Homo sapiens: one gene and its partners. The protein of the gene in region 1 purifies or fractionates together with the protein of each later gene. This does not show direct contact. Each region holds a gene or a part of one and is shown in the gene's direction. Other genes may lie near its edges.

Region 1 (3,518 bases):
TGAGATCCTTCCCCACCCCTCCTGGCTTGGGCTGGGCTATTCCTCCCAGCTATTCCTGCTGTCACTGCAGAGTCAGAGGGAGAAGGGGGCGCCAGGAAGGAAAGCTCTGACTGCAGCATCCGCTGCCCTGAGCGGATGAGGGTCAGGGATGGCTGAGCGGGCGGCCAGCCAGCCTCTAGCAGGGCCTTCCCTGAAATGTGGCCCCTTTTTCCTTCCCCACCCCTCCCCACCATTCCCAGTAGGAGGAGGAAGGGGTCATGGGTACCCCCCTATTCAGTCTGAGATGGGAAGTGGAGAAGGGCCAGGTAGGAAACCCTGAAAGCCTTAATAGAAATAATGGGGAGCCTGCGACTTGGAGGAGGCGGCCCTGCACCCACTCCACCCCCACTCCCTCTTTGCCTGGGACTAAGAGGCCCCAGAGAGAAGGAAACTTTTTGGAATGCATTGCGCATAAGATATTTCCATTGCCTCACTAGGGTGAGGGGTGCCCGGGTCACAGTGAGGGAGGGAACGTTTCAGCATGTGTCTGGGTGTTCAGCGTGACTGTGTGTGCACTGTGTGTGTGTGTGTGTGTGTGTTCAAAAGGATAAAACATGCCTGGCCCGCGTCTGCAGGTTCTGATAGGATGGCTCTGGACGTTGAGGGGTTAATGCGCTCTCTCTCTCTCTCTCTCTCTCTCTCTCTCTCTCTCTCTCTCTCTCTCTGTCTCTCTCTCTCTGTCTCTCTCTGTCTCTCTCTCTCTGTCTCTCTCTCTCTCACTGCTGTCCCTGGCCCCTTAGGCCCCCTCTGGAATGCTGGGACCTGCTACCACCGGCCCTGCCTGGACCTGTGTGGGCAGCCCTGGGGGCAAAGGAGGAGATGGCAGGAAAGGACAGAACAGTCTACTGCCCTCTCCTCATGAAGGCTCTGGGGGCGAGGGTGGGGGAGTGTCCAGGGTGTCAGAGCCCTCAAAGGATGCTTCCAGAGTCTAGTCGGGTGCTGCTGCCTAGGTGTGCAGAGGGGGAACAGCCTGGTGTGCAGAGAGGGAAAGGAAGGATGAGGAAAGCCTTCCCGGCCCTGCAGACTCCTCTGGCCCTCCCCAGCAGTGCCCCCGCCTCTCCTGGGGCTGGAAAGCCCAGCCATACTGGGTCTTGGCTCCCCTTGAGGCTCCTTAAAAGGCAACATTGGAGGTGGGAGCCTTGGACAGCTTGCAAGGAGGCAGTTCAGCATCTTGTAATAACAGAGTTATGAGCTTGTAAAAGCATTATAGAATTCATAGAATGCAGCCCTTCAGTCGGCACCTATTATTAAAGACCTACTGCGTGACAGGCACTATGCTGAGCTCAGGAGATGGAGCGGGAATGCAACAGACACAGTCCTTGTCCCATTTCTAGTGTAAGGTGAAGGGCATGGGAAGACAACAAATGAGTATATTCTGACAAGCTGCCCAGTGTTATAGGGAAAAGAGAGGATAACGGGGGTCCCAGTTTAGAGTAGGGAGTGGGTGGGAAAGCTACTCTGAGGAAGGGACATTTATGCTGAGACCAGGGAGAAGGATAGGAGAGGCCTGGCCTAGGCAGAGGGAGTGGCTCGTGGGAAGGCCGGGAGGTGACTGAGCTCATTTTAGCTGGAGCTGGGGTAGGGGAGAGACGTCCCAAGGAGGTGCAGGCCACGTTCCGTGGCTCACATCAGCTGTGCCCAGGATTCTGCATTTTGTTTGGAGTCACAGGAAGCCACGTAGAGAGCACACGGTCTGATTTACGTTCTTCAAAGATCTCTCTGGCTTTGGGGTGGGTAGGGAGGGGATGGCCGGGAATTTTAAGGGGTAGCAGACTTGGTGAATAAGGCAGTGCCGGGGTCCAGGTGAGAGGTGATGAGGGACGGGAGTAGGGTGGCCACAGTGGAGGGGCGAGAGGTAGGTGGATTCCTCATGTGCCATCTCCAAGCCCTGCTGATGGGGGACATGTGGGCGGACACCACAGACCACCTGGAGCTCTGATGTGAACAACTGGGTGCCATTTTCAGAGTTGAAGATGTTAGGAAAGAGCAGGCTTGTGGGAGGCAGACGGGCTATTTTGAGTTTGAGATGCCTTTTGCACATCCAGAGATGTCAGAAGGTCAGTGGGATATGAGTCTGAAGCTCTAGAGAAGTGGGGTCTGGGATTCCTGTAACAGAATGGTGATAGTAGATATTAATTCTGAGCACTTAATGATGGACCAGGCCCAGTGCTAAATGCTTTACAAGCCTATCATTAAATCCCTGGAAAGTGGTACCACTGTATTATCCTCATTTTATAGACAAGGGCATTGAGAGAGACAGAGCTTGAATGATTCTCCTAAGATCACACAGCCAGTGGGCTGAAACCCAGAATCTGAATTCCAGAACCCATGCTCTTAGTCAATTCAGCATATGGCCTCAGTCATTGACTCAGTTAACAAATATTCATTGGGTGCTTACTATGTGCTAGGCTTTGTTTTCCTAGGCGCTGAAAATACCAAACAATACCTGCCCTCAAGGAATTTACAGCCTATGAGGAAACAGGGATAAGCAATATAAACAGGCCGGGCCTGTGGCTCACACCTGTAAATCTCAGCACTTTGGAAGGCCAAGGCGGGTGGATCACTTGAGGCCAGGAATTTGAGACCAGCCTGGGCAACATAGCAAAACCCCATCTCTACAAAAATTGCAAAATTTAGCTGGGTGTGGTGGTGCACTTGTAGTCTCAGCTATTTAGGAGGCTGAGGTGGGAGGGCCACTTGAGCCTGGGAAGCAGAGACTGCAGTGAGCCGAGATCACACCACTGCATTCCAGCCTGGGCAACAGAGCAAGACCCTGTCTCAAAAAAAAAAGCGGGGAGGAAGGGGAGCAGGCAGATTGGTGTGAACCATCAGGGGCCAGCCTAGTTGGAGCCTTAGAACCAGAACTTGAAGGAGGAGGGGATCAGGGGACAGGAGGACAGAGCGTGCAGGGCCTTGTTGTCACCAAACTTTGGCTCTTATTCTGTGATGTGAAGCCAGTGGAGGGTTTTGGGCAGAGGAACGACATGATATGACTTAGGTTTAGCAGGGTCACTCTGGCAGCTGTGTTAAAAATACCCTGGGAAGCAGGGCAAGGGGCAGATGCATGGAGCACCCACAGTGAGGAGGCCACAGCAGGAATCCAGGTGAGAGGTGATCGGACTTGGGCGGGCTGCAGGAGAGAATGAGAGTGGTTCGGATTCTGGATGCATTTTTAAGGTAGACCCATAGGATATGCGGATGAACTGGATCAGCATGGGAAAGGAAGTCAGCGGGGACTGCCAGGTTTGGGGCCCAAACTCCAGGAAGGATAGAGTTGCCGTTTTCTGAGAACTGTAGGGGGAATAAGTGAGGGGGGTCAGGAATTCGGTTCAGGGAGTGTTTTGGTTCAGGGTAGTGATGTTGAGTAGCCGTGAGATCCTTGACTCTGGTGTTCAGGCAGAGATCTGGGCCACAGATATAAACTTGAGAATCATGAACTAGACGTTGACATTTAAAGCCACCAGGCTGGATGGGATCAC
Region 2 (3,380 bases), on another chromosome or scaffold:
GTACCCGCCCCCCTGCTGTGGGTCGCAGCCCTTCCAAATGTGGCAGGACCCTCGAGGGAAGGCCTGTCATCTGTGTCCTCTGCCCCTCTGTTCACCACTGTTGTCTCTTCTCCCTCTCCCTCCCTTTCTCTTTTCTCCTCGGGTCCTCACCGTAAACCTCCCCTTTTCTGTTCCCTCACAGACACTCTCCCAGAATATGTCCTTCCTATTCCTGCTGTAGCTGGGGGGATGCGGATACAGGGGTGGGTGGAAGGATGGGGAGAGGGTGCAACTTCTCCAGCAGCCCCAGAGCCAGGCCCTCGGCCAGCAGAGCAGACAGGGACATGGATCCCCAAGTCCCACCTGTCACTTTACAGAGAGAGGAAGGGACATGTCCACAGTCACACGCCTGTGACGAGTGTCCCATCTCCAACGCCCAGGCAGCCCTCTTCCAGGTTCCCACACCGCCAGGTCCTCCCTGCACCCTTCTGCTTCTCTTCAGCATCTTCTTTTTGGGGCCTCCCCAGACCCCAACTTCTGCCTTCCCCAGAACTCCCAGGAGTGGGTGACCCCCTTCCGAAGGCCCACCCTGGGTAGAGGGGTGTGTGTTACACGGATATGGACAGAGGGCAGGGTTTCCCTCTTCCAGGCCATGCTTCCTCTGCTCCCTGACTCATCTCTTCCCCTCCCCAAGGACTTTGTTGAGACCCACAGACCCCCGTCTTGGGTCCCGGCACCTGCCACGCTCCCCTTCCCTGAGGTGCTGGTCTCTCAGAGCCCCAGGCCTGGGTGGAGGTGGCCGCAGAGGGAACAAGCAGCCTCCTCTGCCCTGCTTCTCCCTAGGTTGTTATTAACCCCAACTTCGAGGTTGCAGAATCCGATTACTCCAACAACATCATGAAATGCAGGAGCCGCTATGACGGCCACCGCATCTGGATGTACAACTGCCACATAGGTAAGGCCAGGCCGCCCCCACTCCAGGAAGCAGGCGGGAGCTGCCCTACTTTCTCAAGGACCCAGAGGCAGCTTCCTAATTTGGGTAAAGAGCTCGGGGAATGCAGCCAGCATCACATTTCCACATTCAGGACAGAAGCCACAGACACACAGGCCTGGATGGAGACTGAGTTTTTACAGCCAGCTCCGGCCACGGATAGAGGATGGTACAGGACCAGGCCAGCCCAGTGCAGACCCCAAGGCTTTTTAAGGGTTGGAGCTGAGGCCACTGGCTCATTATGTATGTGACCTCAAAAATGTGGGCATCAGCAATCTGTGGGCTCTGCCTATCAGGTTTTTCTGTCGAGAGCTGGAAGCTAGCAAACTACTGTTATTTCTAGTCTCCAATAAAGACACTTTTTTCCTTGGATGATAGGACTTGGGGAACAAAAGGGAAGGCAGAGCTTTTTCCTCTGCAGGAAAAGTCATGGGCCTCACTCTTGGCAAAAGGTTAAAATTAAAGGCGCTATATTTATTCACTCGTTCACTCAACTTTGACAGAGCACCTGCTATGTGCCCAGCCCTAGAGATGGCCAGTGCCTGGCACCTGTCCTTTTGAGGAGGGCACACACAGGTGGCCCCAGCAGCCCCTGAGGCCCACTCCCCTGGCTCAGGGTCAGGCAAGGCCCGAGCATCTCATTTGTCCACTCTCTCTACCCGATTCTCGCTCTTCAGGTGGTTCCTTCAGCGAAGAGACGGAAAAAAAGTTTGAGCACTTCAGCGGGCTCTTAAACAACCAGCTGTCCCCGCAGTAAAGAAGCCTGCGTGGTCAACTCCTGTCTTCAGGCCACACCACATCTTCCATGGGACTTCCCCCCAACAACTGAGTCTGAACGAATGCCACGTGCCCTCACCCAGCCCGGCCCCCACCCTGTCCAGACCCCTACAGCTGTGTCTAAGCTCAGGAGGAAAGGGACCCTCCCATCATTCATGGGGGGCTGCTACCTGACCCTTGGGGCCTGAGAAGGCCTTGCGGGGGTGGGGTTTGTCCACAGAGCTGCTGGAGCAGCACCAAGAGCCAGTCTTGACCGGGATGAGGCCCACAGACAGGTTGTCATCAGCTTGTCCCATTCAAGCCACCGAGCTCACCACAGACACAGTGGAGCCGCGCTCTTCTCCAGTGACACGTGGACAAATGCGGGCTCATCAGCCCCCCCAGAGAGGGTCAGGCCGAACCCCATTTCTCCTCCTCTTAGGTCATTTTCAGCAAACTTGAATATCTAGACCTCTCTTCCAATGAAACCCTCCAGTCTATTATAGTCACATAGATAATGGTGCCACGTGTTTTCTGATTTGGTGAGCTCAGACTTGGTGCTTCCCTATCCACAGCCCCCACCCCTTGTTTTTCAAGATACTATTATTATATTTTCACAGACTTTTGAAGCACAAATTTATTGGCATTTAATATTGGACATCTGGGCCCTTGGAAGTACAAATCTAAGGAAAAACCAACCCACTGTGTAAGTGACTCATCTTCCTGTTGTTCCAATTCTGTGGGTTTTTGATTCAACGGTGCTATAACCAGGGTCCTGGGTGACAGGGCGCTCACTGAGCACCATGTGTCATCACAGACACTTACACATACTTGAAACTTGGAATAAAAGAAAGATTTATGAAACGTGTCTGTGTTTCCTTTGACCCACAGCACCTGGGCCCTGAGCAGCAGGCTTCCTATGTTCAGTGGCCAGAAGCAGAGCTTCAGGTACATTCGTGGTTTTCTCCGGTGGACATGGGTCCTCAGATCCCCTCCAGCCCAGTGTGGCCACCAGGGCACCTCCTTCAATAGACTCCAAAAGGGGCAGCTCCTACCATCTGGGAGAAGCAATCTAAGGAGATCACAAAAAGTAACGGAACAGGAGTCATAATCTTTCTTGAACTCCTGTGGTTTTTACTGAAACTTGTCAGAAGGCATAGGAGTTGTGCGAGGGCTGGATGGGAAGTCTAGATTTAAACAACAGCCACCAGGCAGCTTATCAAAGCAAGAGGGCATCCGTTCACAGGACAGGGGCTCCCAGCAATTCCCAGTGGCAGTGGGGGGGTGGCTGGCCCATGCGACTCACCCAGACACAGGGGACTTCCCCTTGTGTCAACAGCATGCTAGGGCCCAGCAAACTAGAGGGTAGGTAGGACCACCTTGGCACCAACTCCACTCAAACCACAATTGAATGAGGGCGTCGGCACGCATTCAGATCTCACCTCTTGCCTTTGTTTACATTTATTTTGCAGGAACTGGCACTGACTGACAGGTAAGACCAGGACCAGCCCAGGGGTCCCAGAACTGTCCCACAGCACAGGCCAGAAGGCTGGATACCTGAACTGCCAAAGGAGTGTGGGCAGGTGCTACACAGCAGGTGCAACCCAGCTCCCAAAATTGGGCAGGCTGTGCACAGAGGCCCTGCAGGCCCAGT
Region 3 (3,518 bases), 9.8 Mb from region 1:
GTGAAGCAAATTCAGTTTCTTTCTAGGGGCGCTCAGTAAGGCCCTTGCGTTTGGGGCACCAGCCCTGAGATAGTGAGAAGGCCCTGGCTGTGTGAGGAGTGCCAGAGGGAGGGACAGGTTCCGAGAGTGGACAGGCTCAAGAGCTTGGGTGGTTTCTAGGGTGGGGGAGGACAGGGAGCCTGTGGCTGGAAGGGGGCCCCTTACACAGTGGTGCCCACCCAGGGATGCTGCTGTACAATGGGCAGAAGCGAGTCCCAGGGAGCCCCACCAACCTGGCCAACCGGCAGCCCGACTTCATCTCCTTCGGCCTCGTGGGGGGAAGGCCCGAGTTCCGGTGAGACCCCCAGCCTCCCCACCTACAGGGGGACTGGACACAGGGCTTTGGTCTGGCAAGTGCTACCCTGGGCTCCATTATACAAAGGAGATCTGGAGGAAGGAGAAAATGTGGCCGTTACCCTTGGTGACCACCCAATCTGCTAGAGTAGGAATAGTATGCCAGTCAGGTGGAGGAGGGTGCAACCTCAGACTTGGGACTGCTGCAGGCCAGGATTCATTCATTCATTCATTCATTCATGCATGCATGCATCAGTTATTTGCTGACCACCCCATGTGTGCCAGGCACTGATACAGGTAAAACAAAACAGACCAAATTCTGGCTCTTGTGGGAAGAGGTGTATTCTCACTGGGGAAGAATAAACAAGCCATAAACAGAGAAACAAGGTGATCACAGGGAGAGAGGAGTCCTCAGAGGAACAAGGAGGCCAGGTGCTAGGCTGCAGGGCGCTGAGCCTGGGGTCCCTGTGGGCTGCTCTGGGAAAGCTCCCAGCAAAAGGATGTGGGGAGAGAAGATCCAGGGGATGGGTCACGGGGAGGGACGACAAGACAGGGACAGGAACGGGAACAGCCCCAGGGCTGGGACTGCAGGAAGTGGTGACATCCCTCCTCTGGGACCCCTCTACCCAACTGGGCCCCTAGCCCTTCTTACAAACCCCCTATCCACTCTCTCCTGCCCCGGCCTGCCCCACGGAGCAGGTTCGATGCAGGCTCAGGCATGGCCACCATCCGCCATCCCACACCACTGGCCCTGGGCCATTTCCACACCGTGACCCTGCTGCGCAGCCTCACCCAGGGCTCCCTGATTGTGGGTGACCTGGCCCCGGTCAATGGGACCTCCCAGGTGAGACCCAACCCCATACTGCTACTTCCAGCCCTCATCCCGCCCTTGCCCAGCCTCTGTTGCCATTCCTGACTTCCCCACCTCCCCAGGGCAAGTTCCAGGGCCTGGATCTGAACGAGGAACTCTACCTGGGTGGCTATCCTGACTATGGTGCCATCCCCAAGGCGGGGCTGAGCAGCGGCTTCATAGGTGAGCCCCCTCCCCACCTCCAGCTGAGGCTGGGCCTTACCTGGCTGGCTGGAAGAGCCCTGGAGAGCCTGGGAGGGCACCTCAGGGTATGGGCTGGGACACCCTGCCCTGTGCTCATCCTGCCCACTCACCTCCCAGGCTGTGTCCGGGAGCTGCGCATCCAGGGCGAGGAGATCGTCTTCCATGACCTCAACCTCACGGCGCACGGCATCTCCCACTGCCCCACCTGTCGGGACCGGCCCTGCCAGGTGACCCCACACCCCACACACCACCTGGCTGCCGTGGCCTCCACCCCTAGCCATGGCTGGCCCCTGTGGGGATTATGGGGGGTACTGAATGTTCTCGGCCTTACTTCTGGGGGCTGCTTTGCAGAATGGCGGTCAGTGCCATGACTCTGAGAGCAGCAGCTACGTGTGCGTCTGCCCAGCTGGCTTCACCGGGAGCCGCTGTGAGCACTCGCAGGCCCTGCACTGCCATCCAGGTACGCACCCCGACCGCCAGTCGCTGTCGCCCCAGGGCCTGCCTCTTCCCTTTGCTGCCTCCCCATATCCACCACCATCTCAACCACTGGGGCACTTCCACACCCCCCACTCTCACCTGAGCACTCTCCACTCCTCCCATGTACCCATCCCCCATCTCTGCTACCCGAAGGCCCTCACCCCATCACTGCTGCTTCCCCTCCTCCAGCCCTGCTGACCAAATTCTTACCACTACCCCGCCACCCAGGCACTCCCCCACCCCCAGCCCATCTTTTTTTTTTTTTTTTTTTTTTGAGACGAAGTTTCGCTCTTGTTGCCCAGGCTGGAGTGCAGTGGCACGATCTCAGCTCACTGCAACTTCCACCTCCCGGGTTCAAGCGATTCTCCTGCCTCAGCCTCCTGAGTAGCTGGGAATACAAGTGTCTGCCACCACCCCTGGCTAAATTTTTTGCATTTTTAGTAGAGGCGGGGTTTCACTACGTTGGCCATGGCTGGTCTTGAACTCCTGACCTCAGGTGATCCACCCACCTCGGCCTCCCAAAGTGCTGGGATTACAGGCATGAGCCCCCACGCCCGGCCCCCAGTCCCATCTTATTACCCAGGTGCCCACCCCATTACCCGCCACCAGGTGCTCCCCCTCCAACACTGTCCAGTCTCTGAAGAACCTGCAGACACACAGAGTCCCTCGACTGCTTCCCCTGCAGTCCTCCCTGTGGCCTCTTCTGGCTCCCGCCTTGCTCTGCTCAGTTCCCTCCTCCAAGGCCTCCCAGGAGGCTGGCCTGGCCCTCACTAGCCCAGCCCCCCGGGGTGTGATGGGCAGACCTCTGGCATCAGGACCCCCCTCCCTCCAGAGTCACCTCCGTGTCTTTTCACTGGCCTATGTGCCCCCCAGAGGCCTGTGGGCCCGACGCCACCTGTGTGAACCGGCCTGACGGTCGAGGCTACACCTGCCGCTGCCACCTGGGCCGCTCGGGGTTGCGGTGTGAGGAAGGTGAGGGGAGCCAGGCCTGAGACCCCCAGGGTCCTAGTGTCAGCTGGGGAGGCTGGGTGGGGCACTCTGAGGCCATGATGGGCCCTACGGATGATAAAACGATTCCCAAGCCAGAGGATCTCGAAGTCACCTGGCCACATGTCTGCCCAGCCTGAGCCCCTTATTGAGTGAGGGCCCCCAAAGAGGACCCCTGTCATATTGGAGCTCCTCCCAGCCCCGTGTGCAAGGGCAGGGGGGCTCCTGTGCCACTGCAGCTGGTGCCAACTGGTCCTGAGCCTCTGGGCCTGGAGAGTGAGGCAGGCAAGGGTCCCAGAGGAAGGCAGAGTAGCTGGACCCCACCCGAGGGTCCAGGATCCCCACTGCCTCAGCTGAGCTGTGGCTGCTGCAGGTGTGACAGTGACCACCCCCTCGCTGTCGGGTGCTGGCTCCTACCTGGCACTGCCCGCCCTCACCAACACACACCACGAGCTACGCCTGGACGTGGAGTTCAAGCCACTCGCCCCTGACGGGGTCCTGCTGTTCAGCGGGGGGAAGAGCGGGCCTGTGGAGGACTTCGTGTCCCTGGCGATGGTGGGCGGCCACCTGGAGTTCCGCTATGAGTTGGGGTCAGGTAAGCACCCAGCACCAAATGCGGGGCTCTGCACACCAAGCCTTGTGCCCCCCTCGGCTCTTCAAGCCCCAG
Region 4 (3,518 bases), on another chromosome or scaffold:
GATCGGGCACAGTGGCTCACGCCTGTAATCCCAGCATTTCGGGAGGCCAAGGCAGGCGGATTGCCTGAGCTCAGAAGTTCGAGACCAGTCTGGCCAACAAGGTGAAACCCGTGTCTACTAAAAATACAAAAATTAGCCAGGCATGGTGGTGGGCGCCTGTAGTCCCTGCTACTCAGGAGGCTGAGGCACTAGAATGGCTTGAACCTGGGAGCGGGAGGTTGCAGTGAACTGAGATCATGCCACTTCACTCCAGCCTGGGTGACAGAGCAAGACTGTCTCAAAAAAAACAAAAAGTCTCCATTCTTTATAAGACGGATGATATTGTACCACAGACTAGTTAGAGATTGAGGTCTCTGACGGCAGGCGCAGTGATCTCCTCTGGTCCAGCCAGCCAGGCAGCAAATGTCTTCATCGTGGAGCAGATAAGTCTCTCTCCATAACAGCCCAGCCACTGCCTGAAACACCGTTTCCCAGCTGATGACCCTCCGTTACATTTCCTCACCAGCTGATTAGGAACTACTACATTAACTTTTCTAGCTGAACAGAATGATTGGTTTCCAGATTGGATTACACAGCCAGCATCTCCTTGCTTCAATATGTGGCACAGTCGATAATCTTTAAATAATACAAGATCTGGCAGGGAGAAATTCAGCTCTTTTCCCCTTATTAATGCTTAGAGGAAAGAAAAATACCTAAAAGTAGCTGAGAGTCAGCTCAGCCCTGGTCAGAATCCTCATGTGAGTGTAATGTCAGAGCCGGGACCTGCACCTCTCAACAGCCCTGTGAGCAGGGCAGGGGTGATCATCAGGGGATGATGGACAGGAAAGACTGGGTCACGTGGCTGATTTGGGGACTCCAGCCCCATCTCCTGCCTGGCATTCTTCCCCCTGCTAGAGTCTCCGACAAGACACTCTGTCCCTCTTTTCTGAGCAGTCAGCCTAGAGCAGGCTGAACTGGGGGCTTTCTGTCCCCCAGGGGACACTTGGCAATGTTTGGAGACAGTTTTGGCTGTCACAATTGTGTGTGATGGAGGGGTGCTGCTGGCGTCTAGTGAGCAGAGGCTATGGATGCGGCAAAACATCTTGCAACGCACAGGACGGCCCCCACCACAGAGTTTGATCTGACCCCAAAGTGTCCGCAGTGGTAAGGTTGGGAAGCCCTGGCCCACCTTGATCCACGGGGATCCTGGCTGTGGCGTGGGGAGGTTAGGCAGAGCCAGCCAGCTCACAGCAGAAGGGGGACCCAGGAACAGGAGAAGGGGACGAGGACTCGGGGGATGGGCCCAGCTGACTGGGGTTCATTCATTTCTTGAACTTTGTGCAAGACACTGAGATTAGAGTTGACCTGGAGAGACACGGACTTGGACCTCATGGATGAAACAAGATGTGAACAAGTGAACAAAGGGCCACTTCCGCTGGTGAAAAACGCATGAAGGAGACGCAGCGGTGGCGGGACTAGCAGAGAGGGGTGGCGGCTCCAGAATGGCGCTCAATGGACATTTAATGAGAACAAAGTACAGAAAGGAGCAGGTCTTGTGACCAGCCAGAGAGCAAGTGTTCTGAGGAGGAGGAAGATGGAGTACAAAGACCCTGTGCTCAGAATCAGGGCGGTGAGTCCCAGTCACAGAGAGGTGACCGGTGTGGCCGAGGGTGGTGAGAAGCACCATGGGCATGGGCAGCCACATCACACAGGCGGTCACCGGCGTGGAGAGGCAGGGAGTGGGCCCAGGGTTGTCACCTTAGGTGAGGACGTCAGCTGCAGGCAGAGTCCCCACCCCCTGCAGTAGCTGGTCCACACCAGCTCATCAGGCATGAATGCTTCACTAGTTCCGTTTCGTGCCATCCTCCAAGGAGCCTTTGTAGGGTAGGCACCATCCTGAGAAGTTACCCAAATCGCCGGGGCCACACATGTGCTCAGGGGTTTGCACCTGAGCCATCTGATTGCAGAGTCAAAGCTCTTGGCCGCCGGGTTATGAAGTCCTGTCCCATTCCCTGTTGGTGTGGCAGGAAGGGTACCTCCAGGACTCTGGACATGAACACAGAGTGATGGGGAGAGCAGGTAGTGTGGCTTCAGTCCAGGAAAGGATTCACACAGGGCTGGCATACCGCTTCTGTGAAGAGCCAGAGAGTAAAGGTCTTGGGCTTTGCAACTCAGCCCTGCGACTGCAGAGGTATAAGGGAATGCGAGCAGCTGTACCCAGTGAAACTGTATTCACAAAGACAGATGGAGGCTGGCCTGGGCCCTTAGGCCATGGTTTAGGGACCCCTGAATCTAGAGCTGGGAGATGGAGGGTGGAAAGAGGCAAAGCAGCTCACTTATGAGCCGACTGAGACAAAAGGAGTGGAGAGGACACGCTGGGTCTATTTCCTGAGCCTCTCGGGGCAGGACCTGCTTGGCACAGGGACCATCCTCGGCAATTTGTGTACTTGCATCGGGAGACTAAACCGAGGGAGAGAAGTGCCCAGGAGAAGGCTGCCCTGTGTCAGAAAAGGCCCAAGGCTCTGCTGGAGAGGGGAGGCCTTTCCCGGCCCCTCAGGATCCTTCGGCCCTTGTGACTCTGATGCAAGGTGTCTGAGAACTGAAAGATACAAAACATCCCCCAAGAGTGGGGGTGGCACCCGGGCCACGTGAGAAGGGAGCCCTTTCCTCCCTCCTTCCACTGCCTTCCGCCACCACCTGCCTCCAGCTGGTCCTCTTTGGTCACCATCTCGGGGTCACTTGGGATCCAACAAAACCTGGGTCACTAACTGGCTCCAGGCCCTTCTCTTTAAATGAGGCACATCTGGAGAAGGATGACAACTGCAGTGCGTGCCTGCTGGGGCCAGACATGTGTCAGGTGGGCAGAGGTTTTAAAACAGGAAGGAGTGGCGGGGGCTGTGGCCAACAGGGAAGACAGTGGGCAGCCAAAGGGGCCGCCCATCCCCGGCCCGTCCTGACCATATGGAACTGTGGGCCCGTGAGACATCTGTTTCCTTTCTGGAAGCTGGAAATCTGGATCCCTACATCACCGCCACCACCTCCCCTTTTTCTTTAATGTTACCAACTCAGATTTGTTTTTGAGACATAGAAGATACAGGCTACCTGGGGTGTCACTTCAGCCTGCACCCCTGAGTTTTCAGCGTCAGGGCGTATGCAAAAGCCCCCCTCAGCCTTGTTGCCGGCCCACCTGGGTGTAGCACCTGCCTACCACCTGGTGGGCAGCCTCCAGCTCTCTGGGACTCAAAGAAGCTAAGTGGCTTCCCCAGTCCCCGTCCATTTCTACCCAGAGACAGGCACTGCAGGGCCCCTTTTTCCCAGTTTAAATCAACATTTTTACATCCATGATACTTTTTTTCCTTTTTAATTGAGGTGAAGTTCAGATAACATCAAACTCACCATTTTTACAATTATATACAATGCAGAGGCATTTAATAGGTTCACAGTGTTGCACACCTCTACCTAGTTCCAAAACATTTCATCACCCCAAAAGGGAACCCCGTACCCACAAAGCAGTCACTCCTCACTACCCTCTCCCCCAG
Region 5 (3,518 bases), on another chromosome or scaffold:
AGGCCATTGCAGTTAGCTGTTTGCTACTTGTGCAGTTGAGATCTTGGCCAAGTTAAATTGGACCCTTCACTGCATAACATTGTTGATCACATGTTACCAGTATTAGAGCATTTGAGGGCACAGTGTGGCTTAGATGACATAGTTGCATCATATTAGATGTAAAAAGCAATGCAGGCAATAGTATTAAAAATTCTTCAGCTCTTTAGCTGACAATATCAAGTGTTGGCAAGGATGTGGAACAGCTGGAGCTGTAATACTTTTATGGTAGGAATGCAAAATGACAAAATCACTCTGGAAAATGGTTTAGCAATTTTATTTTGTAAGAACAAAATAAACCCTTCATTTGCCATATGATTAGGCAGCCCATTCCCACTCCTAGGTATTTATCCAAGAGAAATGAAAACATGTCCACCAAAGACTGGTACTTGAATATTCGTAATAGTCCCAAATTGGAAACAGCCTAAATGTCCATTAACAGGAGAAAGGCTAGCTGTGTGTGTATATATACATACATATGATGGAATACTCACCAATAAAAAGGAATTTCTGATTCATGCAACATACATGAATCTCAAAAGCATTTTGCTGAGTGAAAGTAGTTCAGACATAAAAGTCTACACTCTTTATGATTCTATTTATGTGAAATTCTAGAGAAGGCAAAACTATGTAGTAATAGCAGATGAGTGTTGGTGGACTGTATGGGGGAGTGGTGATATTGGTAGTGAATTAACTGCAGAGAAGCCCAAGAGAAGTTTTTGGAGTGATAAAAAGTTATTTATCATAGTTACGTTAGTTCCAAAACTGTATGTATGTACTTGTCAGAACTCAAATGGATTGTACATTTAAATTGGTGAATTTTGTCATTTGTAAATTATACCTTAAAATTGTTAGTGATGTCCCTAAGTATCTGATGGTATGGAGTTTTACAAAGATAAAATTTTTAAAAGTTTTACCGTTTCTTAATTCTGGGTTAGCTTTCATTTGAGATTATCAAATGAACAAATTGAGGTTGTTATTATACAAGCATTCTTTTGGTACATTTTAGTTGTGCTTTGGTTGACTTGTGAAGCAGAAGTAAGACTAAATCTGAGAACAGCTATGTGGTGATAAAAGAACGTATATAAGTCACACAAAAGATAAATATTAAGGTCAAGTTACTCCAAACTAGTACCTCTTAACATCTCTGGTTATAAATAAATTTTATGATGTTTTGAATGGCACTTTTGATCAGGATAATGGTAGCTTTGGACAGAAAGTGATGAATATGAGTGAAGCTTACTCTCTCTCAGCAAAATAGAATGGCTGGGCACGGTGGCTCACACTTATAATCCTAGCACTTTGGGAGACCGAGGAGGGTGGAACACCTGAGGTCAAGAGTTCGAGACCGGCCTGACCAATGTGGTGAAACCCTGTCTCTACCAAAAATACAATTTAGCTGGGCATGGTGGCTCGAGCCTATAGTCCCAGCTACTTGGGAGGCTGACGCAGGAGAATTGCTTGAACCTGGGAGATGGAGGTTGCAGTGAGCTGAGATCACGCCACTGCACTCCAGTCTGGGTGACAGAGCAAGACTCCATCTCAAAAAAGAAAAGAAAAGAAAAACCCTTTAGATTGTTGTTACTGAAAAGAGGTCTGTTATTAAAAAATGAGGATATTTGTGTTTATCCTGGTTGATACTGGATGTTACATTAGTTTTATTGGGTACCTCTGGTGAATATTAGGAAACCCATTTATATCAAGGTATGCTTACCATTCAGTAGACAACTGTTTCATGCCAACACTGATAATTTAATAATTTAACGACTGTCACTCGATTGGAGTAACTTTGTTTTCAAATTACAAAGTAGTTCAAATAAATGGAAAAGAACTGAAAATGAGCATAACCCGTATTAAACAAATGTTAACAAATGAAAAATGTTAAATACAGCTAAAGCACCCCGACATAACCATCCTGAAATTAATCATTATAGACCTGTTTATGTACACATGAATGAGTGATTTTGTACTTAAACTGCACATTCGTGTATGTATAAACAGGTCTTTTTATACAACAAAATTTATGTAAATGGTATCTTTAACTGGATATGTCTTGCCACTTTTTTTTCAGTTTAAATAATGAAACAGGCAGTATCTAAAATGTTTAAGGAACTTATTTGTCCTCCCAGAGTCTCTCAAAAATTCTAAAAGTTCTTCTCCTAGGGAAATAAAGTGAGAAAATAAGTGACAGGATTTTGTAGATATGGTGGTTATCTACGAAAACCACCAGTATTAAATTTTAAAAAGAATTATTGTATGTAAATCTTTAGCTTTCTTTTTTGTGTGTCATAAAGACACGGTCCCTCTATGTTGCCCAGGCTGGTCTCGAACTCTTGGCCTCTAGTGATCCTCCCACCTTGACCTCCCAAAGTGCCAGGGTTACAGGTGTTGAGCCACCACACTTGACCAATATCTAACAGTTCTTAAATTAATGCATCATTGTAGAATTGAATGTTAAGGCTACACTCCACTCTATCAGTCTTTTTATTGCCACCTAAAAATTTCATTTTTGTTTAATCTTGCTTTGGATTTTGGTTAGTAAACTTCTAGGGATGTAGTTTCACATTGATAACCTGTTAACTTGGGAGCTATGGAGTATGGAGGTGTAGTGAGGAAGTCTGGAAGGGGAGTGGAAACCCCTAGGCAGGGATTTTCTGGAGGGGCCAGATGGTAATTATTTTGAGTTAGAAATCTTTCTGAAATGAATCATAGTGGCCTAAAGGATGTGCCAGATATAATTTTACTCATTTGTGTGATTGTGGTTCAAGATAATTGCACTGTGGTATAGTGGTTCTTATTTATTGAGGACCTGTCATGTACCAATCACTTTACATGGTCTCCCCCTCACCCTACCCTCCAGCCCCAAGATTCAGAATGCTGTAGTATTCTTAGGTTTTATTGAGCTTAAAATAATTGGCCATGGCCATTTAATGTATGATGACTTTTTAAGTTCCCATCTACTTTGTCATTTTGTTGACCTATTATCACTTCAGACTGTTGTGTGCTTGAATATACATAATCTCCCAAGCCCCTTCTTATTTATGGGCTTGGAAAAGGCATAAAGGCAGTAAAGGCAGTTGGAAAAGCCTGTTAGTGTAATAGTTCTATGTGATGAATAAATGAGCTTTAAGTTTGGAACTCTTAAGAATCTGAGTAAAATAGGTGTTTTGGTTCACAGACTCCTTGACCATTATTTTGACTGAAAAACTTTATTTTTGCTAGTCAGTGCTCAGCAAGAATATTGTTGAACAGCTGAATTCCAGTTGGTGTGTATGTGCTAAGTGAATGTCCCCATTTATGCTGAAATGAGTTCCTACCAAAATGTCAGTTTTCTGGATATTATTTGAAAGGAGTATTTTGGGTAGATTGGTCTACTAAATAATGTTGGAAAGCCAACCTCTTTTTTAATGTGAAAGTTTTTATCTTGCCAAATTTTAACTTTTTTATTTTAGAACAAATTCTGTACAACATAAAACAAGAGT

What was found.
Region 2: the proteins of TINAGL1 (region 1) and LOXL2 purify together in Homo sapiens (affinity purification with mass spectrometry; 2 studies listed by BioGRID and IntAct, with this or other methods). This does not show direct contact.
Region 3: the proteins of TINAGL1 (region 1) and HSPG2 purify together in Homo sapiens (affinity purification with mass spectrometry; 3 studies listed by BioGRID and IntAct, with this or other methods). This does not show direct contact.
Region 4: the proteins of TINAGL1 (region 1) and SULF2 purify together in Homo sapiens (co-immunoprecipitation; one large-scale study listed by IntAct). This does not show direct contact.
Region 5: the proteins of TINAGL1 (region 1) and AKIRIN2 purify together in Homo sapiens (co-immunoprecipitation; one large-scale study listed by IntAct). This does not show direct contact.

Annotation. Positions count from the first base shown.
Region 1 is NC_000001.11:31,579,509-31,583,026, forward strand, and holds part of TINAGL1 (tubulointerstitial nephritis antigen-like isoform 1 precursor), read left to right. Parts: intron 1-3,518. UniProt on the Homo sapiens protein: May be implicated in the adrenocortical zonation and in mechanisms for repressing the CYP11B1 gene expression in adrenocortical cells. This is a non catalytic peptidase C1 family protein.
Region 2 is NC_000008.11:23,296,390-23,299,769, reverse strand, and holds the end of LOXL2 (lysyl oxidase homolog 2 precursor), read left to right. Parts: intron 1-822; coding exon 823-934; intron 935-1,647; coding exon 1,648-1,727; 3' UTR 1,728-2,873; downstream 2,874-3,380. UniProt on the Homo sapiens protein: Mediates the post-translational oxidative deamination of lysine residues on target proteins leading to the formation of deaminated lysine (allysine).
Region 3 is NC_000001.11:21,829,311-21,832,828, reverse strand, and holds part of HSPG2 (basement membrane-specific heparan sulfate proteoglycan core protein isoform b precursor), read left to right. Parts: intron 1-222; coding exon 223-334; intron 335-1,032; coding exon 1,033-1,177; intron 1,178-1,266; coding exon 1,267-1,366; intron 1,367-1,504; coding exon 1,505-1,614; intron 1,615-1,738; coding exon 1,739-1,847; intron 1,848-2,737; coding exon 2,738-2,836; intron 2,837-3,224; coding exon 3,225-3,446; intron 3,447-3,518. UniProt on the Homo sapiens protein: Integral component of basement membranes. Component of the glomerular basement membrane (GBM), responsible for the fixed negative electrostatic membrane charge, and which provides a barrier which is both size- and charge-selective.
Region 4 is NC_000020.11:47,666,974-47,670,491, reverse strand, and holds part of SULF2 (extracellular sulfatase Sulf-2 isoform a precursor), read left to right. Parts: intron 1-3,518. UniProt on the Homo sapiens protein: Exhibits arylsulfatase activity and highly specific endoglucosamine-6-sulfatase activity. It can remove sulfate from the C-6 position of glucosamine within specific subregions of intact heparin.
Region 5 is NC_000006.12:87,681,734-87,685,251, reverse strand, and holds part of AKIRIN2 (akirin-2), read left to right. Parts: intron 1-3,488; coding exon 3,489-3,518. UniProt on the Homo sapiens protein: Molecular adapter that acts as a bridge between a variety of multiprotein complexes, and which is involved in embryonic development, immunity, myogenesis and brain development.